Homo sapiens: one gene and its partners. The protein of the gene in region 4 purifies or fractionates together with the protein of the main gene of each other region. This does not show direct contact. Each region holds a gene or a part of one and is shown on either strand. Other genes may lie near its edges. The genes, in order: PCDHGC3, KIDINS220, EFNB1, CEACAM21, ABCB10, OAF and PCDHGA11.

Region 1 (3,500 bases), on a different chromosome or scaffold from region 4:
TTCCCCCATCCTGCAACCAACCAAACCCTTGTTGCCACAAGGACCCAGGAGCCCTTGGTGTATGGCAGAGATTCCAGCTTCTGGGCATGCACAGTCCTGTCACCCATTTTAGGAACGCAAAGCGCTTCTTAGAAGGCCCCTAAAAAGCAGCAGATCAAAAGGCTTGGGCTGCCCTTGCCCTTCCTTTGACCCCAGCTGTTGTCCTTCTCCCTGCTGGCCTTGCCAACCTTCTCATAAGTTATCCATTAAGTCATTAATGTATTCATTCGTTCATTTATTCAACAAATATTTATCGAGCATCTACTATGAGCAGGGCCCTGTGCTAAACATTGGGCTATAGGAGTGAACAAGTAGATGTGATCCCAGAACTCATAGGCTTCCAGACCAGCAGAGGAGACTGAAAATTTGCAACAAGTAACACTTAAAAAAAAAAAAAAAGGCTGGGCACTGTGGTTCACGCCTGTAATCCCAGCACTTTGGGAGGCCAAGGTGGGTAGATCACTTGAGGTCAGGGGTTTGAGACCAGCCTGGCAGCCAACATGGTGAAACCCCATCTCGATTAAAAATACAAAAATTAGCCAGGCGTGGTGGCAGGCACCTGTAATCCCAGCGACTTAGGAGGCTGAGGCAGAACTGCTTGAACCCGGAAGGCAGAGGTTGCAGTGAGCTGAGATCACGAAAAAAAAATAATCTAGCCACAAATCACAGTAAGTTCTGAGAGGCAGAGAACAATGTGAGTGTAATGGGGGGGGGAAGATCAGAGAAGGCTTCTAGGAGGAGGTGACATTGAGAAGTTCTAGGCCATTTATGTTCCCTCTACCTACCACCACCCCAGGCCATACACTGGCTTTGAAGCAGAATTCACCATTGAACCTGGAAGCCCCACCAACTGCCTCTCATGTGTCCTCTGGGGTGAGCACCTTACCCCTGCCTCAACTCCCATTCCATCAAATGAGAGGCTTAGTGGCCTGGAATACATGTGGGAGCTCTTGGAGATATGGAGGAGAAGGTGCGGAACCTCTCTCTCTCTCCTCTCTCTGCTTCCTTAGTTAACTTGTGGAGGATGCAACAAACCTTTTTTTTTTTTTTTTTTAGACAGAGTCTTGCTCTGTTGCCCAAGCTGGAGTGCAGTGGTGCGATCTTGGCTCACTGCAACCTCTGCCTGCCAGGTTCAAGCGATTCTCCTGCCTCAGCCTCCCGAGTAGCTGGGACAGCAGGTGTGCACCACCACACCCAGCTCATTTTTGTATTTTTAGTAGAGATGGGTTTCGCCACGTTGGCCAGGCTGGTTTCAAACTCCCCGACCTCAACTGATCCACCTGCTTCAGCTTCCCAAAGTGCTAGAATTACAGGTGTGATCGCCCCCGGCCACAACAAACATTTTTGATTCAGCGGCTCCAAAGTGAAATAAGCGTTAGGATCTAGTCCAGTAACTTCAACTTCTCTCCTTCATTCATTCAACAAATGGTCAGTGAGCACTTTCTGTTGGCCAGGCAGTGTTCTCGATGTGGGAGGCCCCTGCCCTCAAGGAGTTTACAGTGCACTGAAGGAGACAAATATTGACCAAATAATTACAAAAATAAATGTGAGACTGAAACTGTCATAAGTGCTAGGTAGAATTGTATCTGGTGGTGTGGGCGTATAATAGGGATTTGATTTAGGGAGCAGGAGGACATCCTGGAAATGAAGTTGTGCTGAGATCTGAAAGACAAATACAAATTAACCAGCTAAAGAAAAGAAGGAAGAGCATTCCAGATGGTCAGGCATACCAGCTTCAAAGCAGGGCTGGTGTTGAGTTCTTCAGTAAACTTGGTTCAAGATCAAGCCAGCTCTGGGTCACACTGCCTACACAGAAGGAAGAGCATTCCAAATGGGAAAAGCCTATGCAAAAGCCTTGTGGTGAGGCCTCCTGGGATCAAGGGAATGGCAGGGAGTTTTCTCTTTGCTGGCACTGGAGTGAGGGGATGAAGAGGAGAGGTTCCTTTTATCCAGTCTAACCCTGGTTCCAGCCTTCTGTTGATGCCCTGCCTCACTCCCTCCCCACCATCTTGCCCACTGCCCTCCAGCCTGGTCTGGTCAGACACACCAGCTTCAAAGCAGGGCTAGTATTGAGTTCTTCAGTAAACTTGGTTCAAGTTCAAGTCAGCACTGGGTCACACTGCCTAGACAGAAGGAAGAAGACCTGGCCAGGTGTGGTGGCTCACGCCTGTAATCCCAGCACTTTGGGAGGCTGAGGTGGGTGGATCACCTGAGGTCAGGAGTTTGAGACCAGCCTGGCCAACATGATGAAACCCCATCTCTAGTAAAAATACAAAATATTAGCCAGGTGTGGTGGTGCACACCTGTAGTCCCAGCTACTCAGGAGGCTGAGGCAGGGGAATCGCTTGAACCCAGGAGGCGGAGGTTGCAGTGAGCTGAGATCACACCACTGCACTCCAGTCTGGGTGACAGAGCGAGACTCCATCAGGAAAGAAAGAAAGAAAAAGAGAGAGAGGGAGGGAGGGAGGGAAGGAAGGAAGGAAGGAAGGAAGGAAGGAAGGAAGGAAGGAAGGAAGGAAGGAAGAAAAGAAAGAAAAAGGGAGAAAAAATGAAGAAGACTTACATTCTGAAGTTCCTGCTTGGCACATGCTTCTCCTCCCCACCACTATCCCTTCTCAGGTCATCCTTTGGGTGTCTGATCCCAATAGCTGTTGTCTCAAGCTCTGAGCCCAGCAAACCATTTCCCCCTTCTTAGGCTGTAACCCAGGCCCTGCCCTGCAGCTGTCCCCAGCCTCTGCACAAAGAGTCTCCATTTGGTCCCTAGACTGTTCTCTGATGGCTCCACACTACCATCCCTCCTCTGAGAGACAGTATCCCTGCTCTCTCTCAGTTTGGGCAGTCATTCAACAAACAAATAGCAACTTAATTTTTTTCCACTTATAAAATAGTACATGCTCATTATAGAAACATGAAAAATAGAAAAAAAATTAAAAGGAAAACCACCCATCATTTTACAATCTAGGGAGAACCACCACCAACTACAGTTTAATATGAAACATTTCAAATATGTACAAAAGTAGAGAGAATGGTGTCATGAACCTGTATGATACCACTATCCAGCTTCAACTAATGCCTTATCTTGTTTCACCTATATCCCTACCCTTATCCTGTCCTTGGATTCTTTTGAAGCAAATCTCAGACATCATATAATTTCATCTTGGTCTCCACCATCTTTAACAGATGACTTTTTTTTTTTTTTTTTTTTTTGGAGACAGAGTCTCACTCTCTTGCCCAGGCTGTGGCACAATCTCAGCTCACTGCAGCCTTCGCCTCCCGGGTTCAAGCAATTCTCATGCTTCAGCCTCCTAAGTAGCTAGGATTACAGGTGTGCACCACCACACACAGCTAATATTTTGTATTTTCAGTACAAACAGGGTTTCGCCATGTTGGCCAGGCTGGTCTTGAACTCCTGGCCTCAAGTGATCCACCCTCCTCGGCCTCCCAAAATGTTGGGATTACAG
Region 2 (3,500 bases), on a different chromosome or scaffold from region 4:
AAAAAATAAATAAATAAAAATAAAATAAAATTAATAATCTAAGCTTCCACCTCAGGAAACTAGAAAAAGAGCAAATTAAATCCAAAGTAATCAGAAGAAAAGAAATAATAAAAACTAAAACAGAAATAAAACAATGAAACCAAAAGCTAGTTAGTTCAAAAGATAAACACAATCAATAAGCCTTGGACTAACTAAGATGAAAGAAGAGGAAACACAAATTCAGAAAAACAACAAATAAAAGAGAGGCTACCACTTTAGACCTACCTCATGGACAAAAATAGGATAATAAAGGGATACTACAAACAACTCTATGCCCACAAATTTGATAACTTAGATAAACAGACCAGTTCTTTCAAAGACATAATTTGCCAAAATTCACAAGAACAGGCCTATATCTATTGAAGAAATTGCATCAATAATAATTTTTCAAAACAGAAAGCACCAGGCCCAGAGGGTTCACTAATGAAGTCTACCAAGCACTTACAGAAGAAATTATACCAACTCTACATAGGATCTTTCAGAAGACAGAAGCAAAGGGAATGCTTCCTAACTCATGCTATGAAGTCAGCATCACCCTAATACCCAAAGCAGACGAAGTCTTGACAAGAAAAGCAAACTACAAACCAATAAATATCTCATGAGCATAGATGCAAAAAACCTCAACAAAATATTAGAAAATCATATGCAAAATGTATAAAAAGAATTATACACCACAATCAAGTGAGATTTATGCCAGGTAGGTAGGGCCGGTTCCACATTCAAAAATCAATTAATGTAATCCATCACTTCAACAGACTAGGCTGGGCACAATGGCTCATGCCTGTAATCCCAGCACTTTGGGAGGCCGAGGAGGGAGGGTGGATCACCTGAGGTCAGGAGTTCAAGACCAGCCTGATCAACACGGTGAAACTCCGTCTCTACTAAAAATACAAAATTAGCTGGGCATGCTGTTGCATGCCTGTAATCTCACCTACTTGGGAGGCTGAGGCAGGAGAATCACTTGAACCCGTAAGGTGGAGGTTGTAGTGAGCTGAGATGGCACCACTGCACTCCAGCCTGGGCAACAAGAGTAAAACTCCGTCTCAAAAAAAAAAAAAGAAACAGGCTAAAGAAGAAAGATCACATGATTGCATAATTAGATAAAGCAAAAGCATTTGACAAAATCCAACACCATTTATGGTAGAAACTCTCAGTAAACTAGAAATAGAGAGGAACTTCTTCAACTTGATAAAGAGTATCTGTAGTTAACATCATACTTAATGGTGAGAACATGAAAACATCTACTAAGATCAGGAACGAGGCAAGATTGTCCCTTTTCTTACCACTCCTTTTCAACATAGTACTGCAAGTCCTAACTAATGCAATAAAACAAACAAACAAAAAGGAAATAAAAGGTATGAAGACTGGGAAGAAAGAAAGAAAACTGTCTTAGTTCACAGATGACTTGACTCTCTATGTAGAAAAACCGAAAGAACCACAATGAAAAAAAACTCCTGGGACTAACAAACAATTATAGCAAGATTTCAGATTAATACAAAAGTTGATCACTTTCCTATATATCAGCGTCAAACATGAAATTAAGAACACAATTACTATATATATTAACACTGCAAAAAACGAAATAGGTATAAATCTAACAAAATATGTATAAGATCTATATGAGAAAAACCACAAAACTCTTGAAAGAAATCAAGGAAGAACTAAATAAATGAGGAGATATTCCATGTTCATGGGTAGGAAGACTCAATACTTGACCTAAAGATTTAACGCAATCTCAATGAAAATCCCAGCAAGTTATTCAAGGTGAATCAAAAGTTCATATGAGGAGAAAAAGACCCAGAATAGCCAACACAGTATTGAAGGAGGAGAACAAAATAGGAGGACTGACACTACCCAACTTCAAGAAAATAGAGCTAGAGTAATCAAACAGTGTGGTATGCGCAAACGAACAGACAAAGAGAAAGAGCCCAGAAACAGACCTACACAAATATAGTCAATTGATCTTTGACAAGCGGCAAAGGCAATACAATGCAAGAAATAGCGTTTTTAACAAATGGTGCTGGAACAACTGGAAACAAAAAAAAAAAAAGAAAAGAAGCAAGGAAGCAAGAAAGCAAGCAAGAAAAGAATCTAGACACATTCACACTTCACAAAAATTAACTCAAAATAGCTCACAGACCTAAATGCAAAAGTATAAAACACCTAGAAAATGACAGAGGATAAAATCTAGGTGACCGTAGGTTTGGTGTTAACTTTTTAGATAGGACACTAAAAGCAAGATCCATGAAAGAAAGAATTAGTAAGCTAGACTTCATCAAAAATGTCTGCTCTGCAAAAGACACTGTCAAGAGAATGAAAAGCAACCAAAAGAATGGAGCAAAATATTTGCAAAAAGCTTATCTGATAAAGGACCATTAGCCAAAATACACAAAGAACTCTTAAAACTCAACAATAAGAAAATGAACAACCTGACTGAAAAATAAGCCAAGACCTTCACAGCCAATTCACCAAAGAAGACATACAGATAGCAAATAAGCACATGAAAATATGCTCCACAACATGTGTAATCAGGGAAATGCAAATTCAAACAATAAGATACCACTGCACACCTAACAGAATGGCCAAAATCCAGAACACCAATAATACCAAATGCTGGTGAGGATGTGATGTGGAGCAACAGGAGCCTCATTCATTTCTGGTGGGAATGCAAAATAGCCACCTCAGAACAGTCTGGTTGTTTCTAACAAAACGAAACATCATACAATCTAGCAATCACACTCCTTGGTATTTACCCAAAGGAGTTTTCAAATCCTTTATGTTCACACAAAAGCCTGTCCACAAAAGTTTATAGCAGCTTTATTCATACTTGCCAAAACTTGGAAGCAATAAAGATGTCCTTCAGTAGATAAATGTATAAATGAACTGTGATATATCCAGACAATGGCACATTAGCCATGCTAAAAAGAAATGAGCTAGCAGGTCATGAAAAGACATGAAGGGCACTTAAATGCATATGACTACGTGAAAGAAGCCAATCTGAAAAGACTACACATGTATGATTCAACTATATGACATTCTGGAAAGGGCAAAACTATGGCGATAGTAAAAAGAAATGGTAGCCAGGGGTTAGGGAGGAGGGTGGAGGGAGGGGTGAACAGGTGTGAAGAGGTGAAGCACAGAAGATTTTGAGGGCAATAAATCTACTCTGTATAAGACTATAATGGTGGATACATGTTATACATTTGTCCAAGCCCACAGAATGTACCACACCAAGAGTGAACCCTACTGTAAACTATGGATGCTGGGTGATTATGATGTGTCAGCCTAAGTTCATCAATTGTAACAAATGTACTGCTCTGGTGGGTAATCGTGCCAATTGGGGAGGCTGTGTATGTGTGGGGGAAGTGGGTATATGGGATATCTTTGCACTTCCCTCTAAATTTTACCGTGAACTTAAAACTACCTTAAATTATAGTCTTGAATGAACGAATGAATGAATG
Region 3 (3,500 bases), on a different chromosome or scaffold from region 4:
GATCAGATCCAGCAGGGTCTTAACTACATGCAATAGCATTGCACCACTTAGAAGCTCCCACTACTACAGGAGAGGAAAGAGTTAAGCCCAGGGAGAGAGCCAGAGGATGGGATGGGCGGGACTCACAGGTAATGTAGTAATCATGGTGCTTCTTGAACTCCAGGCCCATGTAGTTGGGGCTGAACTCCTGGAACTTGATGGTAAAGCGTATTTCCTGCTCTGGCCTATTGCAGGTGACCAACACGTTGGGGTCGAGAACTGTGCTACAGGCAGCTGCCTGCTCAGGCCGCACCAGGTACAGCTTGTAGTACTCATAGGGCCGCCCTGCTTCTGCTCGGGGGCAGATGATGTCCAGCTTGTCTCCAATTTTCGGATAGATCACCAAGCCCTTCCCACTCAGGAACCTGCCCAGAAGGAAGAAGATGGTCAGCCTCAGGGTTGGGGGTGGCCCCAGGCCATTCCAGAACCAGGGAAGCGGACAAGAGCCGGGCTGGGCCTACTGGGTGGAGATGGCAAGAGCAAGCCTTCTGCCCTTCCTCCATCCTCAGGCTGGGGGTGGGGAGAGAGAACCACACTACCAGGAGAGTGTGGAAGGGGTGGCCCATGGGCAAGGCTGCCAGGCTCTGACTGCTCGGCAGGGTGGAGCACTGCCTGGCTGGGGGAGCCCTTTGTCCTAATGTGGCATTTCCGCAGGGGGCTGACGTGGCCAATGGGCTGGGTACCAAGGTGTCAGGCCCATGCTACCTGGAGGTGGCAGTCTTATATACCCCCACCCCCAACAAAGATTCCTTCATGACCGCTGCTACTACCTCTCCTATACCCATACACACGTGCGCGCGCGCGCGCGCACACACACACACACACACACACACACACACACACACACACATACACACACACACAGCAAGCCCACACATGTCTTAGTCACCACTCCCCGCAGCTCCCAGCCAAAGGCTGGGGGAGCTCAATCTGTCTGGGACCCATGTCTTCTCCCCCATCCTTACTAATCTTGGTCATGATGGAAAGATAGGAACAGGCATCGCCTGGAGCAAAGGGATGATGGCCACAGTCTCTGGCCAGGTGCAGCTCTGCTCACTCCCACTGCCTATTGTCCTACTGGCAATTCATCCCACCCTCAAAATGCAAGAGCCTGAATTCCTAAACTTGATTCATCTCATTCTTAAAAAGAACAGAGGAGAAGAGAAGGGGCTCAACCAGAGACAACAGATCATAGAAGATAGGGCCTCATCTGTATCCTAACCTGTCACCTCTATGTTGCTCCTACTCCAGCTCCTGAGAGGAGATGGACAAATGCCTTTTGAGCCAGGTTCATATTCTAATCCAGAAGGCCAGGCACTGGGGGACAGCAGGGAGGGTCAGCAGCCCAGGACCACCTATCCATAGGACTCTGTCCTTGCCTAAGCACACAGAAAGAAAATGGTGCTCCATTGGCCATTTCTGAGACTGGATGGGCTGGTGCTGAGAGCAAGGCAGAACCATGTAGGAGAAAGAACACAGACTTTAGAATCAGATTCCAAAGCTAGGCCCTTACTAACTCTGTGACCTTGGATGAGCTGCCTGTTCTGAGCTTCAGTTTCTTCTCTTGTAAAGTGGGGGTGGCAAGAGCCCCTACCTTCCAATATTGTGGTGGGGAGACAAGGCAGCACATGGAGAACACCTAGCACACAATAGGCGTTCAACATGTTTGACTGCCTCTTAGAAGCAGTCTCCCAAGAGGCAGGAGGTCAGATACTAACACTAAGTACCTATGAGCTCACTCTCATATTTTGGAGGGGAAACAGGAAGAGAAGATATGGCTCCATCGTCAAGGACTTTACTGTCCAGTTTGGGTCAGAAAAGTAAATAACCCATACTCGAGTGATAGACAACACCAGGCTATCTGTAGGTATGTGTGAGGATGATGATTCAAGCAGCAAGGGCTGGAGGCAGGGAGAAGAAAGAGATAGCTCATCTGACCAGGATGGTCAGAGATGTATCCACAGGAAAGGCAGGATGAAAGTGGGTCTTAGGTGAGGAATAAGAAGTCAACACACTGAGACAGTAGACAGCAGTGGCTACAACACAAAGCCCAGGCCAGTGATTGGTCCAGCTTGGCTGGGAGTGAGAAGAGAGAAACAGAAGAAGAGGTGAAAAGTTCACCTGGGGCCAGACTGAAAGGCTTCAAGGGTCACAGCAAGCAGGGTGGGTTTCATCCCATTGGAGACAGGCTCTCAGAGCAGGAAGGACAATGGAAGGCTTCAGGCAGTGCTTAAAGAGAATGAAGCTGACAGTGTCATGCACCAGTTCACAGGCTACCACAATCATCTGAGAAAAGAGTGGTTCCATTTCCTGAGGGCCCATTACACCAAAGGTACTACAAGCAATACCGGCCTACTGGGAACTCTGGGCAAATGCCTTTGCAATGCCAAACCTGTGTCCTCATCTGAGGGAGGGAAATGATACCCAAGTAGGCGAAGAGGGAAACTGACCACATGGATGAAGTGGACGAAGAAAAGCAGCCTTTCCTCCATGTCGAGTGAGGCTCCACCAAATTGGGAGCTGCCATCTTGATGTGCAGGAGGGTAAAAGCCAGAATGAGATGGCCTCCCCACTGGTACCTAACTATAGAGGGCCCAGAAAGGAAGTAGGCATGGGATGGAAGCCTGGATAAACATTTCAGATGGAATACCCCTGTCCCATGCACCATACAAAGCCAACAAGTTTCCCCAAAGCCTCTAGAATTCTCCAGGCATTTTTTCCCTTTCCAGTGCTCACAACGGTTCCATCCAGATGGCAGGATTAGACAACTGCTCACATCTTAGAGCCAGCAGGAACCTTAGAGTCCAGGCCCTTCATGTGAGGGAATGAATGATCAGATGAATGTTCCCATTGAAAAGAGGGGTCTAAACCTACCCAGGACAATAACCCGATGGGTCTAAGAGGCCCTAAAACATTACCTGAATCCTTGTACTGTTGCATCTTAACAACACATATATATGCAGCTACATAGAGGGCACGGAAAGGGAGACAGGCCAGCTCAGCTTTCTAACCACTCGGTTCTGGCTTACTCACCAGGGAGTCCTGTCTACCCCAAGTGCAGTCTCCCATTGCCACCCAGGTTCCAGAGCCCTGGAATTGGAACAGGGCTTCTAGCTAATTGGGGTTCTACCTTGAAGCCAGAGGCATTGAGGAAACAGATGTCTACATGATGGAGGAGGGGGGAGAAGAGAGAACTATTGCCCCCAAAACCCCTCAGAGTCTCTTCAACCTCAGTGAACAGACTTCATAAATATTCATTAGTTCATTTGCATGGCAGCTGGCAGAGGGAAACTCACCTTCCCCTGAAGTGCAGAAGGGAGCGGAGCCTGATGAGACCCGCCTTCCCTGACCCTGATCCCCCATACTGGTAACCTTAGCATCTTCCCGACCACTGGGCAAACCTCGTCTTGACCTGTCAGAAGCTCAAGAGAGTGGTAACGGGCCATAAGGGATGGGTGTAT
Region 4 (3,500 bases):
GGGTAGGGGAATCTGGGCAGGGGAGAGAGGGGTGTCAGGGGACAGGGAAGGATTCCTGCTGTGTAGGAATTCCAGGGCTCTCCTCAGGTGATGGAGGGTCCCAGGGTGGGGTTAGCACAGGGAGTGGATGATCCTGGCCCTGAACAGAGGCCCAGCTCATGGCCAGGGCAGGTCTAACCTTATCCAAGTCATTCTGGGTAGGGTGGGTTTGTGCTGGGGATTGACAGTCCCCCTGCCCTGAGCCTGCACAGCTGGGGCCCCAGTGGAAATGGGATTGGGAACGGACAGTCTTACCTAGGAGATGGAGCTGTCAGAGGGTCCATGGCCTGGGGACAGAGACAAAAGTGAGCACGAGAGTGTTAGGATAGCTGGGCCCCTCCTGCAAGAGTGTGTGGGGGTCCTCAGTTCTTAGAGAATTGGGGAGAGGGAGCCTTTCTCAGGTTATTTTAGGGGTCAAGTAAGCAAGTGAGGTTGAGGAAGTGACCCATGACCCAGAGCCCGGAGGTTAGGGCTGACCCGGCCAGTTGGGGTTTCCTGTGTGATGTTTTATGGGATCCTCTTTGCAGCCCCAGGGATAGGGTCAGAGGCCCCTGGGTGTAACTGGCAGGAGTGGACAACTTGGGGCTGGCTTAGTAGTTCCCAGCCACACCCAGACTGAAGGGACACTCACCGGGGGTGGAGGCTGGGGGCTGCTGCTCCCTGAAGTCACTCTGATCGCTGGCCCTAGGAAAGGTCAGGGTTATTTGTGAAGGTGCAAGGTTAAAAGTCACAAATTGGAGTTAAAATAGGGGACCAGGAAAGGAGCCTATTTCCAAGAGGGGTATGGAGACCTCCTTTCTTTATGGAGTTCTGTGGTAGGAGGGGCCCAGGTGAGGGGAGTTGAGGAAAGGCCTTACAAAGCCACATCTGTCCTGGCCAGAGGGGAAGGACTCTCAGGCAGATGCTGGGCCAGGAGAACATTGATCCAGTGACACAGGAAAGGGACTGAGGACCCAGGGAAGGAATCAGACCACCAGGGGTTGCCTGAGAGGAAGGGTCAAGGCACCAGGGGGAAAGCAGGGCCAGGCACATGTGCAGGACACTGAGGGGACTGCATGCATCTTGGATTCTCCTGGAACTCAGTGTCCCTGCTGTGACCAGACACTCCACTCAGGGCTGGAGATGCTGAAATGGGACAATGATCTTGTCTTCTGTCTCTGCCCTTTGGCAAGAGACATAAACGACATTCCAGGATATGCCATATTGGGGCCCCGGTTCTCCCTTCTCACAGCTCAGTGTCTGCAGTTACCATGTCAGTCAAAGGGGTGCTGACCCCACCCAGCCCGTCCAGGCTGTTCCAGTCTCCACTATGTGATGATGCCCAGGATCCCCCCTCAGATGCCCTCTCACTGGGTGGATGGATTCAGTGAACAGGGGGAGGTACCAGGTATTGAGCACCGCTCCCCCCTGCTCCAGGCAGCTGTGGCTTTGCTGTGCTAGGAAACTAGGACCATGCTCAGGGGCATGGCCTTAATTGGACTGAATTCACTGAGGACAAAGCTGTTGAGGAAGCAGCCCAGGGTCAGCAGCTGGTGAGGAAGGTGCCATGGAATGAGAGGGAAGGATCCCTGGGGAGTCGGGAGGCTGGGGAGAGCCTGGCACTGAATACAAGACAGGGTCTCCTTCCTTCTCGCCTGGGGTCAGCGTGAAGGATGGGAGCAGAATGGGGAAAAGCTGTGGTACCTGCCAGTTTTTCGGAGGAGCAGGAAACACACAAGTGCAGCCACCAGAAGACTCCCAACCAGGACCCCGATCAGGATGCCTAGAGTGTTGTCATCTGCTGAAAGAAGAAGGCAAAGGGGATGAGGTCCAAATCTGTTCCAGGGGGAACCATGAGGGGCCTTGCAGGGCAGGGGCATGGTCAGGGAGGAAGGAAATGCCATGGAGCCTGAGTGTGGTCTGTTGTGCTGTCCTCATAGCTGGCTCCCTTGCTCTCCGTGGTTGCACCATTTTCTGTGTCTTAGGCTTGAATTACTGGGATGCATCAACTCCTACATTCTCCCACAGGAAGCCTGCACCTCATCCTGCTCCTGTGTTTTTTAGTCCCTCCTTCCTCTCACATCACTCCTCTTCCCCCTGTTTCTTTTTTTCCATCCCATGGCAGTCGTAAAGGGCAGGCCCTTGCTGCCAACTCAATGCTGATGAGCAGGGATGATGTTCATTGACTGTTTTCAGGGGCCTTCCACATGGAAGGCACAGTGGGAATCAATCTACCTGCAGCTTTTCTCACCCTCCCATTGCCTTGAGGGAGAAGGGTATGTGATATTGTGAAATACGTATTTGGTGTTCATCACCATTGATATGGTTAGGCTCTGTATCCCCACCCAAATCTCACCTTGAATTGTAATAATCCCCATGTGTTATGGGAGGGACCTTGTGGGAGGTAATTGAATCATGAGGGTGGGTTTTTTCCATCCTGTTCTTGTGATAGTGAATAAGTCTCAGGAGATCAGATGGTTTCATAAAGGGAAGCTTCCCTACACATGTCCTCTTGCCTGCTGCCATGTAAGACATGCCTTTCACCTTCCATCATGATTGTGAGACCTCTCCAGCCATGTGGAATTGTGAATCAATTAAACCTCTTTCTTCATACATTACCAAGTCTCAGGTATGTCTTCATTAGCAGTGTGAGAATGGACTAATACAGTAAATTGGTACCAGCTAGTGGAGTGCTGCTATAAAGATACCTGAAAATGTGGAAGTGACTTTGGAACTGGGTAACAGGCAGAGGTTGGAACAGTTTGGAGGGCTCAGAAGAAGACACAGGAAAAAAGTTTGAAACTTCCTAGAGACTTGTTGAATGGTTTTGATTAAAACGCTGATAGTGATATGGACAATAAAGTCCAAGCTGAGGTGGTCTCAGACAGAGATGAGGAACTTCTTGGGAACTGGAACAAAGGTGACTCTTGTTATACTCTAGAAAAGAGATTGGTGGTATTTTGCCCCTGCCCTAGAGATCTGCAGAACTTTGAACTTGAGGGAAATGATTTAGGGCAACTGGTGGAAAAAAAATTCTAAGCAGCAAAGTGTTCAAGATGTGACTTGGGTACTGTTAAAAACACTCAGTTTTATGTATTTACAAAGGTATGGTTTGGAATTGGAACTTATGTTTAAAAGGGAAGCAGAGCATAAAAGTTTGGAAAATTTGCAGCCTGATGATGCAATAGAAAAGAAAAATCCATTTTCTGAGGAGAAATTCAAGCCAGCTGCAGAAATGTGCATAAACAATGAAGAGCAAAATGTTAATCCCCAAGACAATGGCAAAAATGTCTCCAGGGCATGTCAGAGACCTTCCTGGAAGCCCCTTCCATCACAGGACTGGAGGCCTAGGAGGAAAAAATGTTTCCTGGGCCAGGCCCAGGGCTCCCCTGCTGTGTGCGGCCTAGAGACTTGGTGCCCTGCATCCCAGCCACTCCAGCCATGGCTAAAGAGGGCCAAGGTACAGCTGGGGCCATGGCTTC
Region 5 (3,500 bases), on a different chromosome or scaffold from region 4:
AAAACTATTCATATTTGGAAAACGGCATGTTAGTGCAGGAAGGGTCCTCTTCCAGAGGTTTGCTTCTCTCTTAGCTGGAAAATCATGAGATTTCAAAGCTGTTTTTCATTCCGTAAGTCAGATCTAATAGGCAACACACCCTTCCTCTCTAAGTGCTTCATGGGACACAAAGGACAGAATCCAAGCTTTTCCACTTGTGAGAAAGGATTATTTACAGTTCTTATTCCACGAGTCTAGAACTGCACTGCCCAAAACGATAGCCCTACTGGAAACTTGAAATGTGGCAGGTATGACTGAGACATTGACTTTTTAATTGTATTTAGGTTTAATTAAAATTTAAAAGCCTATACTCCATTCAGTTATTGGCAAACTATTAAGTATGTCTGGAAAACTTGAGTATGTCAAACTACTTTTTCAATTGTACATTTTATAAAATCTAAATATAGATCAAGTACTTTCAATGAAAATTTAGCATCCGAATTAAGATGTTCCTTAAGTAGAGAATACACACCAGATTTGGAAATTCAGTTGACCTTTGAACAACATTGGTCTGAAATGCATGGGTCAACTTATACATAGATTTTCTTCCATCTCTGCCACCCCTGAGACAGCAAGAACAACCTTTCTTCCTCCTCTCAGTCTACTCAGTGTGAAGACAATGAGGATAAATACTTTTGTGATGAGCCGGGCGCAGTGGCTCACGCCAGCAATCCCAACACTTTGGGAGGCTGAGGCAGGCAGATCACGAGGTCAGGAGTTCAAGACCAGCCTGGCCAACATAGTGAAACCCCATCTCTACTAAAAATACAAAAAAATTAGCGAGGCGTGGTGGCTGGCACCTATAATCCCAGCTACTCGGGAGGCTGAGGCAGGAGAATCACTTGAACCCGGGAGGAGGAGGTTGCAGTGAGCCAAGATCGTGCCATTGCACTTCAGCCCGGATGACAGTGCGATACTCCGTCTCAAAAAAAAAAAAAAAAAGCTTTTATGATGATCCACTTCCACTTAATAAATAATAAATATATTTTACCTTCCTTATGATTTTCTTAATACCATTTCTTTTTTCTAGCTTACTCTGTTATAAGAACATAGTATATAATACATATACCAAATACATGGTAATTGACTGTTAATGTTATCAGTAAGGCTTCTGGTCAACAGTAGGCTATTAGTAGTTGAGTTTTTAGGGAGTCAAAAGTTATACTTTGATTTTTGACTGTGTGGGCTTCAGTGTCCCAACCCCTGCATTGTTCAAGGGTCAACTATAATATGAAAGAAATAATATAAAATACCTCATTAATAATTTTGATATTAATTACATCTTGAGATGACAATATTTTGTTTATACTGGCTTAAACAAAACATTATTAAAATTAATCTCAGCCAGGTACAGTGGCTCAAGCCTGTAATCCCAGCACTTCAGGAGGCCGAGGCAGGAGGATCACTTGAGGCCAAGAGTTTGAGACCAGCCTGGGCAACATAGAGAGACCCTGCCTCTACAAAAAATATATATATATATTCTTTAAATTAGCCAGACTTGGTGGTGTGTGCCTGTAGTCCCAGATACTTGGGAGACTGAGGTGGGAGAATCACTTGAGCCCAGGAGTTTAAGACTGCAGTGAGCTATGATCTTGCCACTGTACTCCAGCCTGGGTAACAGAGTGAGACTGTCTCTAAAAAAATTAAAATTAAAAAAAAAATTAATCTCATTGGCTTCTTTTTGCTTTTTTAAATGTGGCTACTAAAACATTAAAATCACATATGTGGCTTGCATTGCCTCTCCAATGACCTGCAGCACTGGGCTGAATAGAAATACTGGTTGAAGAGGTAAGGCAAGCAGACAGGACAGGCACAAGCCACCCAGTTAAGGAAAGGAAAAAAGGCCATGGGAGTGAAGAGCTCTCCCCTTAAAAGAGCACAGTTCGACTTACACACACAGAGGAATGGAATTTAGTCACCGCTTGGTGCCACCCACAGGGTAGTACCCAGTGCTCCTTCTACCTGATGCTCTTTTCTGCCTTAATACCCCGGGTACACACATCTCAGAATACCCAGCAGTAACACATGAGTCCATTTTCCAGATAATCACTCATTCTGGAGAAATGAAGGTACAAGAGGCCATGCAGGCAGAGGCAATCCCCACGTTCCAGCAGCTTCTGCAACAGCACTTTTGGCTCTAGGCACTTACAGAATGATGCGAACCGCTCAGCTTGAGCTCGTCTCACACGTGAGAGGCCTGGTGCAAGCCAAGCCCTGGCAGGAAGGTACCAAGGGGAACCAGGCCCACATACCATCATACTGATGCCTACGGAAGCCTGGGCCCCGGCCCTGAGCCCATCTGAGAGGTTTTCAGTCACTGAGCGCCCCAGGAGTGCAGTGTCTGATGAGAGGCGGTTAATCAATTCTCCTGTGCGAGTCTTGTCAAAGAAAGCAACCTCCTGCCTCAGAATGGAGGAGAATAATGAAGTTCTCAGCCTATTCACAATGCGCTGACCTGCAAAAGCAAACACGAACAGGCTCACCAAGGGTAAAGACATCCATTACCATTATGGGGCAGCCACTTACTGTGCAGCAGCTTGGCCTGGAGTTGTAACCCTCCTGAGCAATGCAGCCTCTGAGCGTGTCTGCTGCACTGTATCCCATGGGTGGAAAGAGACTTTCCCAAACCAGGCACATTAACTGTCATGCACTACTAACACTACTTTTCTCTTATTAACTACAGACTGTGGGCGCTAGTGAGAGGATACAGGAATAAAATAAATATAACATGACTCAGAGGCCTTTTTTATTTTTACTTTTTTTTTTTTTTTAAGAGACTGGGTCTTGCTCTATCACCCAGGCCTGAATGAAGTGGCACGATCACAGTTCACTGTAACCTCAACCTTGTGGGCTCAAGCCATCCTCCCACCTCAGCCTCCTGGGTAGCTGAAACTACAGATGTCCGCCACTACACCCAGCTAACTTATTTTTATTTTTTATATAGACGGAGTCTTGCTATGTAGCTCAGGCTGGTCTCAAACTCATGGGCTCAAGCAATCCTCCTGCCTCAGCCTCCCAAAGTGCTAGGATTACAGGCATGAGCCACCACACTTGGCCGAGATTTTTTTAAGGTATTATTTACAAAGAAGTTTTATTACATTAACTTCCAAAAGCTCATTTTGTTCCTCCCTGGAAACCCTTTCCTGTATTGAACCTTCAAATGGCAAGAATTGGTTAATTATCCACAGAGATAAATGGAGAGCAACAGACTTCGAGTTGGTGTCCCAGGTTCTCTCATTATTGTGGCAGTGACCTGCCTGTAAAAACAAGACCTCTTCAGAGAAATACTAACAAAGTTATCATCCCAGCTGCTACTTAAGGAGAAACACAAGCATGGGGCATGTAAATGGGTTTCTGAAGCCTTCAGGAAGCCTCAGAAGTCCAGCTTCATGGCCAGGGGCCTCATTTTCTTTTTTTTTCTTTTTTTTTTTTTTGAGATGGAGTCTCGCTCTGTCCCCCAT
Region 6 (3,500 bases), on a different chromosome or scaffold from region 4:
TCACGCCGTTGCACTCCAGCCTGGGCAACAGAGTGAGACTCCATCTCAAAAAAAAAGAAAAGAAAATATCTCACAGACACTAGTGAGCAATCACTATGTACGTTTTTTCCTGCCACTTACCCACTGTGTGACTTGGCAAGTCACTTAACCTCTCTGAGCCCCAGGCTCCTTGCCGGTACACCAGAGACAACAGTGTGATGCTTGGGGTTCAGTGTGCGCAGTGACTAAGAGGCCCTTCGCAGAACAGAGGCCCGCGTGGGCATGTGAGGAGTGAGGTGCCAGTGCCCGCTTGGATGTCCGTCTACCCCACCGTTAAGCATGTTGCTGCAGCTGCTGCTTTTCTGCTGTAGGGACCAAAGCATCATGAGGAGCTAACATCCTTGAAGTTGGCAAGTGTTGAAGTGGCTGCCACTAGGGATTCAGATAAAGGGCAGGGAGAGGCATCAGGGCTGGGAGTGCGGGTGAGAGGGAAGCATGGAGACCCGTCTCAGGAGCACTGAGTCAGCAGCACAGTGGGGCGCAGTTGATCCACATAAAGCCTCACATTGTTCCTGCAGCAGTCAGGACAGTGGTGACCTTTGGGATTCGGCTGACAGAGCACTGCTCTGGGGAGGGGCTGGGGGCAGGAGCACTGCTCTGGGGAGGGGCTGGGGGCAGGAGCACTGCTCTGGGTGAGTGGTTGTGCTAATGCCCCAAGACAAGCAGCCTCTGTCCAGGCCTAGCCCTGAGGGGATGCTGGCATCTCATCATGGGGCGGCCTAGGTCCCTGGGCACTGGCCTCGGGATGTGCGTGGCCTGGCTCTGGGTGGAATCCATCCACCCCGTTCCTGCTCGAGAAGCCTGGGCAGAGCAGCCAGGGTGCTTCCAGCTTTGCCGTGGGGCTAGGAAGGCACTGCTTCCTGGCTGGCTCTGCAGGCTAAACCCCCTCTCCCCTCCCCAGCCCAGCGAAGCCAGCCACTTCTCTAGCCATAAAGCAGCCCCAGCCAGGAGCAGAGGAATAAATATTTAGATTGGCTCAGCCTGGGCCCCAGAATCATGCTCTCTGGTGTGACAGGAAGGAGACCAAGATGGCAGAGGACACTCCCAGGAGAGAGCGCCAGCTGTCCAGGAGCAAGAGGGTTGGAAGAATGGGAGGGGGCCAAGTGGCTTGTGTGGCCCTAGAGCGATGACCTGCAGCCTGGGCCATGACCAGCACTGGACAGTGGTGGCTGGAAGCAGGGTGTGGAGGGAAGGGGCAGTCTGCTGCCCTGGCCCCCTTTGCTTTCCATTCTCCTGCAGGCGGGCCTCCCCCCAAACCCCAGGGCTTTCTGGGGAGGGGCTGAGGAAGAGCGCCTGGAGAGTGGGGCCAGCTAGGGACCGTGATGGGAAGGCAGGGTGCCAGAGGAGACCGGGCAGGCTGGAGCAAGGTGATGACATGCGGTAAGAGTGTGTGCCTGCACATGCACGCATGTACACGTGTGTGTGTGTGTGTACACACGTTATGAGAAGTGGCATCGGGAGGAGGCGTGTGAGGAGAATCGAGCAAGTGAGGAGGGTGATGCGGGGTGTGCCCTGACGCTGGGCATGAGATGGGGAATTCACAGGGGGGGTGGGCGTGGGGACTGCGGAGAGGGGTGTGATGAGACGGTGGGGAGCCGCCTCTGCCGGCAACAGGGAGACTGAGGGAGGAGACAGGCCCAGATGCACCCCTGTGGAGGGAATGGGAATGTGGAACAGGAGCCACTGGGAGACCTTGCGGGAAGGAGACTGAGACCCAGCTTGTCTGTGAAAGAGGACGGTGTGCGCGAATGGGGAAGCCGTGTGAGCCTGTGCATCAGTTGAGATTAGGCTCAGCCGTGAGCAACATAAACCCCCAGGAACAGCGGCTGAGGCCGTGGCAAAACAGCCTGTTTCATTCTTCCCAGTGTTATCTGAGTCTGGAAGCCAGTCAGGGCTGGTGTGACAGCCCCGCTATCCCCTGGGATCCAGGGGCTCCCTCCCCACCCTCAGTGCTGAGCACAGGATGTCTGCCCAGGGGTGCTCTGCCGTCTCTCAGCGCATTCCCCCAGTGCAGCTGAACCAGAGCAGCCTTCCCTCTGGAGACACAGGTGGATCCCAGTCAGACAGCATGGCTGGGATGGGCACAGGGAGGAATTGAGTATCTGGACAAGGGCTACGGAGGGGAGCCAGGACAAGCATGAAGATCACTGGACTCAGAGTCAGGAGGTCTAGGCTTCTGGCCCTGGCTCTGCCACTGTGTGACTCATGAAGGTTACTTCCCTGCTGGAACCTCACTGGGCCATGAACTAGATGATCCCCTAAACCTTCTAGATGCCAAAATAGCAGCTGTAGCACTATCAGCCTGCAGGAGCCCAGCTGCAGGCAAGGCCGAGAAGAAAGAGTGTCTGCACATTGGAGGCCAGTGGGTTGATGGAGGCCCTAGAGCATTCATTCGTTCCTCCAGCTACTAAGCATTGAGCCCCAGCTGTGCGACAGACCCCAGGGTCACCATGTGAATAGGCTAGAGTCGCTGCTCTTGAGCCAGAGGCAGGTCACAGAGGGCTTGGATGACTAACTGCCTGGGCAGAAGGTGCTCCATGAGGACAGAGACCATCTGACTGGGGCACTGAGATCCAAGGCACTCTCACAACCTCAGGCAGAGTCTGATTCAGCTCCAAACCACAGGTCCCTCATGTCACCCCAGGCTCAAACCCACCAGTGACTTCCAGAGAGGCACAAGAGGAAGCCTCCCACTCCTCAGCCTGGTTCAGACCCTGCGTCCTGCTTGTGTCCTGACCCCTTGCCAGCCTCATCAGCACTCACGACCCTTCCCCTCCTCCCCTAGTACATTCCCACCGCTTTTCTCAGAGAACTCTTCCATGCTGTTGTTCATTCACCCTTCATGTATTCCTTATCAGATGTTTATTGAGCACCTGCTGTGTTCCAGGGGGCAGGGATGCACTTCAAGCAAGCCACTTTTCCTGGCTCAAGAAGTTGAGTCTGGAAAGAAAGACAAGTAAAGAGGTCAGCAAAAACACAGTGGGAGTAAACAGTGGGATTTGTGCTCTAGAGGCAGCGACTGGGATTGGCCAACTCTGCAGAAGGGCTGGTGAGGGCAGCACTGGGAGGGCAGTCAGAGGAGGGTCGTTTGTGAGCTGTGCCCTGCACACAAGGCACAGCTGAGACAGCTGAGCACAGGGCATCCCGGCAGAAGAACCTGCTCACAGAAAGGCCTAGGGGTGACACAGCATCGCTCATTCTGGGAACTACAAGCTCTCCGGTTCAGTGCATGGGAAGTGCAACAGTTGCTGTGAGCAGGGACCTGGGATGCCAGGCTCTGGGGTTAGGCTTTCTGGTGAGGACAAAGGGAGCCCTTGAAGGGCATTCGGCCACTCGGGTGATAGTAGCATGGAGGGATGATTGGGTGGGGGCACTGGGAGACTCATGCCTGGCTGTCTTCTGTAAATGCCTCATTGCTGGAAAGCCCTCCATCCTTTAACTGTCAAGGGCCAATGAGGAGT
Region 7 (3,500 bases), on a different chromosome or scaffold from region 4:
TTTTTTTTAGACAGAGTCTTGCTCTGTTGCCCAAGCTGGAGTGCAGTGGTGCGATCTTGGCTCACTGCAACCTCTGCCTGCCAGGTTCAAGCGATTCTCCTGCCTCAGCCTCCCGAGTAGCTGGGACAGCAGGTGTGCACCACCACACCCAGCTCATTTTTGTATTTTTAGTAGAGATGGGTTTCGCCACGTTGGCCAGGCTGGTTTCAAACTCCCCGACCTCAACTGATCCACCTGCTTCAGCTTCCCAAAGTGCTAGAATTACAGGTGTGATCGCCCCCGGCCACAACAAACATTTTTGATTCAGCGGCTCCAAAGTGAAATAAGCGTTAGGATCTAGTCCAGTAACTTCAACTTCTCTCCTTCATTCATTCAACAAATGGTCAGTGAGCACTTTCTGTTGGCCAGGCAGTGTTCTCGATGTGGGAGGCCCCTGCCCTCAAGGAGTTTACAGTGCACTGAAGGAGACAAATATTGACCAAATAATTACAAAAATAAATGTGAGACTGAAACTGTCATAAGTGCTAGGTAGAATTGTATCTGGTGGTGTGGGCGTATAATAGGGATTTGATTTAGGGAGCAGGAGGACATCCTGGAAATGAAGTTGTGCTGAGATCTGAAAGACAAATACAAATTAACCAGCTAAAGAAAAGAAGGAAGAGCATTCCAGATGGTCAGGCATACCAGCTTCAAAGCAGGGCTGGTGTTGAGTTCTTCAGTAAACTTGGTTCAAGATCAAGCCAGCTCTGGGTCACACTGCCTACACAGAAGGAAGAGCATTCCAAATGGGAAAAGCCTATGCAAAAGCCTTGTGGTGAGGCCTCCTGGGATCAAGGGAATGGCAGGGAGTTTTCTCTTTGCTGGCACTGGAGTGAGGGGATGAAGAGGAGAGGTTCCTTTTATCCAGTCTAACCCTGGTTCCAGCCTTCTGTTGATGCCCTGCCTCACTCCCTCCCCACCATCTTGCCCACTGCCCTCCAGCCTGGTCTGGTCAGACACACCAGCTTCAAAGCAGGGCTAGTATTGAGTTCTTCAGTAAACTTGGTTCAAGTTCAAGTCAGCACTGGGTCACACTGCCTAGACAGAAGGAAGAAGACCTGGCCAGGTGTGGTGGCTCACGCCTGTAATCCCAGCACTTTGGGAGGCTGAGGTGGGTGGATCACCTGAGGTCAGGAGTTTGAGACCAGCCTGGCCAACATGATGAAACCCCATCTCTAGTAAAAATACAAAATATTAGCCAGGTGTGGTGGTGCACACCTGTAGTCCCAGCTACTCAGGAGGCTGAGGCAGGGGAATCGCTTGAACCCAGGAGGCGGAGGTTGCAGTGAGCTGAGATCACACCACTGCACTCCAGTCTGGGTGACAGAGCGAGACTCCATCAGGAAAGAAAGAAAGAAAAAGAGAGAGAGGGAGGGAGGGAGGGAAGGAAGGAAGGAAGGAAGGAAGGAAGGAAGGAAGGAAGGAAGGAAGGAAGGAAGAAAAGAAAGAAAAAGGGAGAAAAAATGAAGAAGACTTACATTCTGAAGTTCCTGCTTGGCACATGCTTCTCCTCCCCACCACTATCCCTTCTCAGGTCATCCTTTGGGTGTCTGATCCCAATAGCTGTTGTCTCAAGCTCTGAGCCCAGCAAACCATTTCCCCCTTCTTAGGCTGTAACCCAGGCCCTGCCCTGCAGCTGTCCCCAGCCTCTGCACAAAGAGTCTCCATTTGGTCCCTAGACTGTTCTCTGATGGCTCCACACTACCATCCCTCCTCTGAGAGACAGTATCCCTGCTCTCTCTCAGTTTGGGCAGTCATTCAACAAACAAATAGCAACTTAATTTTTTTCCACTTATAAAATAGTACATGCTCATTATAGAAACATGAAAAATAGAAAAAAAATTAAAAGGAAAACCACCCATCATTTTACAATCTAGGGAGAACCACCACCAACTACAGTTTAATATGAAACATTTCAAATATGTACAAAAGTAGAGAGAATGGTGTCATGAACCTGTATGATACCACTATCCAGCTTCAACTAATGCCTTATCTTGTTTCACCTATATCCCTACCCTTATCCTGTCCTTGGATTCTTTTGAAGCAAATCTCAGACATCATATAATTTCATCTTGGTCTCCACCATCTTTAACAGATGACTTTTTTTTTTTTTTTTTTTTTTGGAGACAGAGTCTCACTCTCTTGCCCAGGCTGTGGCACAATCTCAGCTCACTGCAGCCTTCGCCTCCCGGGTTCAAGCAATTCTCATGCTTCAGCCTCCTAAGTAGCTAGGATTACAGGTGTGCACCACCACACACAGCTAATATTTTGTATTTTCAGTACAAACAGGGTTTCGCCATGTTGGCCAGGCTGGTCTTGAACTCCTGGCCTCAAGTGATCCACCCTCCTCGGCCTCCCAAAATGTTGGGATTACAGGTGTGAGCCACCTTGCCCGGCCAGATGATTCTTTCATAAGGTCCACATTTTATATTTGAGTGAGTGTCTCTTAAGTATCTTAATGCTCTTTTAATGTAAAAGACTTCCCCTCCATCTTCCATTTTTGCAATTTATTTGTTGAATCCCTGCCTTTTCATATATATCTTTCTAAACTTTTCTTTGTGTAATCAAAGAACATGCATGAGCTTCATTTTTATTTTTATTTATTTATTTATTTATTTATTTATTTATTTATTTATTGATACGTAGCCTTGCTCTGTCACCCAGGCTGGACTGCAGTGGCGCAATCTCGGCTCACTGCAAGCTCCGCCTCCCAGGTTCACGCCATGCTCCTGCCTCAGCCTCCAGAATAGCTGGGACTACAGGCGCCCACTACCACGCCCGGCTAATTATTTTGTATTTTTAGTAGAGACGGGGTTTCACCGTGTTAGCCAGGATGGTCTCGATCTCCTGACCTCGTGATCCGCCCGCCTCGGCCTCCCAAAGTGCTGGGATTACAGGCGTGAGCCACCGCGCCTGGCCGAGCTTCATTTTAAAAAAATCTCATTCACCTAAATAAGTTGTTCACAAACTTGTCACACTTTCATGTGACACTTTATTCACATATTAAGAACTGTTATTCCCAGTCATACGGTACATTTCCTACTAGTTTTTTAAAAATAGCAACTGAGGCCATACTGTCCAACAGAATTATAGCTTTTTTCTTCTTTGCAGTGTATCATGAGAATTTCCCCATGTCTTTCAAAATTCTTCCCAAGTCATTTGCAGAGTAACTCCTCTTATGAATATACATATTATTTTACAGAATAAGTCCTCATATGAATATACATATTATTTTTCTAATGCTAATGGGCTTTTGCTACATTAGAAAACATACACATTCATTTACAATTTTTTTTTTTTGAGACAGTCTCGCTCTGTCTCCAGGCTGGGGTGCAGTGGCGCCATCTCGGCTCACTGCAAGCTCCACCTCCTGGGTTCAAGCAATTCTCCTGCCTCAGCCTCCTGAGTAGCTGGGACTACAGGCACGCGCCACCACGCCCAGCTAATTTTTGTATTTTTAG

The links.
Region 1: the proteins of CEACAM21 (region 4) and PCDHGC3 purify together in Homo sapiens (affinity purification with mass spectrometry; 3 studies listed by BioGRID and IntAct, with this or other methods). This does not show direct contact.
Region 2: the proteins of CEACAM21 (region 4) and KIDINS220 purify together in Homo sapiens (affinity purification with mass spectrometry; 3 studies listed by BioGRID and IntAct, with this or other methods). This does not show direct contact.
Region 3: the proteins of CEACAM21 (region 4) and EFNB1 purify together in Homo sapiens (affinity purification with mass spectrometry; 3 studies listed by BioGRID and IntAct, with this or other methods). This does not show direct contact.
Region 5: the proteins of CEACAM21 (region 4) and ABCB10 purify together in Homo sapiens (affinity purification with mass spectrometry; 4 studies listed by BioGRID and IntAct, with this or other methods). This does not show direct contact.
Region 6: the proteins of CEACAM21 (region 4) and OAF purify together in Homo sapiens (affinity purification with mass spectrometry; 3 studies listed by BioGRID and IntAct, with this or other methods). This does not show direct contact.
Region 7: the proteins of CEACAM21 (region 4) and PCDHGA11 purify together in Homo sapiens (affinity purification with mass spectrometry; 3 studies listed by BioGRID and IntAct, with this or other methods). This does not show direct contact.

The regions. Positions count from the first base shown.
Region 1 is NC_000005.10:141,496,466-141,499,965, forward strand, and holds part of PCDHGC3 (protocadherin gamma-C3 isoform 1 precursor), read left to right. Parts: intron 1-3,500. UniProt on the Homo sapiens protein: Potential calcium-dependent cell-adhesion protein. May be involved in the establishment and maintenance of specific neuronal connections in the brain.
Region 2 is NC_000002.12:8,782,114-8,785,613, forward strand, and holds part of KIDINS220 (kinase D-interacting substrate of 220 kDa), read right to left. Parts: intron 1-3,500. UniProt on the Homo sapiens protein: Promotes a prolonged MAP-kinase signaling by neurotrophins through activation of a Rap1-dependent mechanism. Provides a docking site for the CRKL-C3G complex, resulting in Rap1-dependent sustained ERK activation.
Region 3 is NC_000023.11:68,835,521-68,839,020, reverse strand, and holds part of EFNB1 (ephrin-B1 precursor), read right to left. Parts: intron 405-3,500; coding exon 127-404; intron 1-126. UniProt on the Homo sapiens protein: Cell surface transmembrane ligand for Eph receptors, a family of receptor tyrosine kinases which are crucial for migration, repulsion and adhesion during neuronal, vascular and epithelial development.
Region 4 is NC_000019.10:41,582,666-41,586,165, reverse strand, and holds part of CEACAM21 (cell adhesion molecule CEACAM21 isoform 1 precursor), read right to left. Parts: intron 1,820-3,500; coding exon 1,723-1,819; intron 724-1,722; coding exon 671-723; intron 327-670; coding exon 295-326; intron 13-294; exon of another isoform or gene 1-12.
Region 5 is NC_000001.11:229,545,208-229,548,707, forward strand, and holds part of ABCB10 (ATP-binding cassette sub-family B member 10, mitochondrial), read right to left. Parts: intron 2,495-3,500; coding exon 2,292-2,494; intron 1-2,291.
Region 6 is NC_000011.10:120,217,532-120,221,031, forward strand, and holds part of OAF (out at first protein homolog precursor), read left to right. Parts: intron 1-3,500.
Region 7 is NC_000005.10:141,497,551-141,501,050, forward strand, and holds part of PCDHGA11 (protocadherin gamma-A11 isoform 1 precursor), read left to right. Parts: intron 1-3,500. UniProt on the Homo sapiens protein: Potential calcium-dependent cell-adhesion protein. May be involved in the establishment and maintenance of specific neuronal connections in the brain.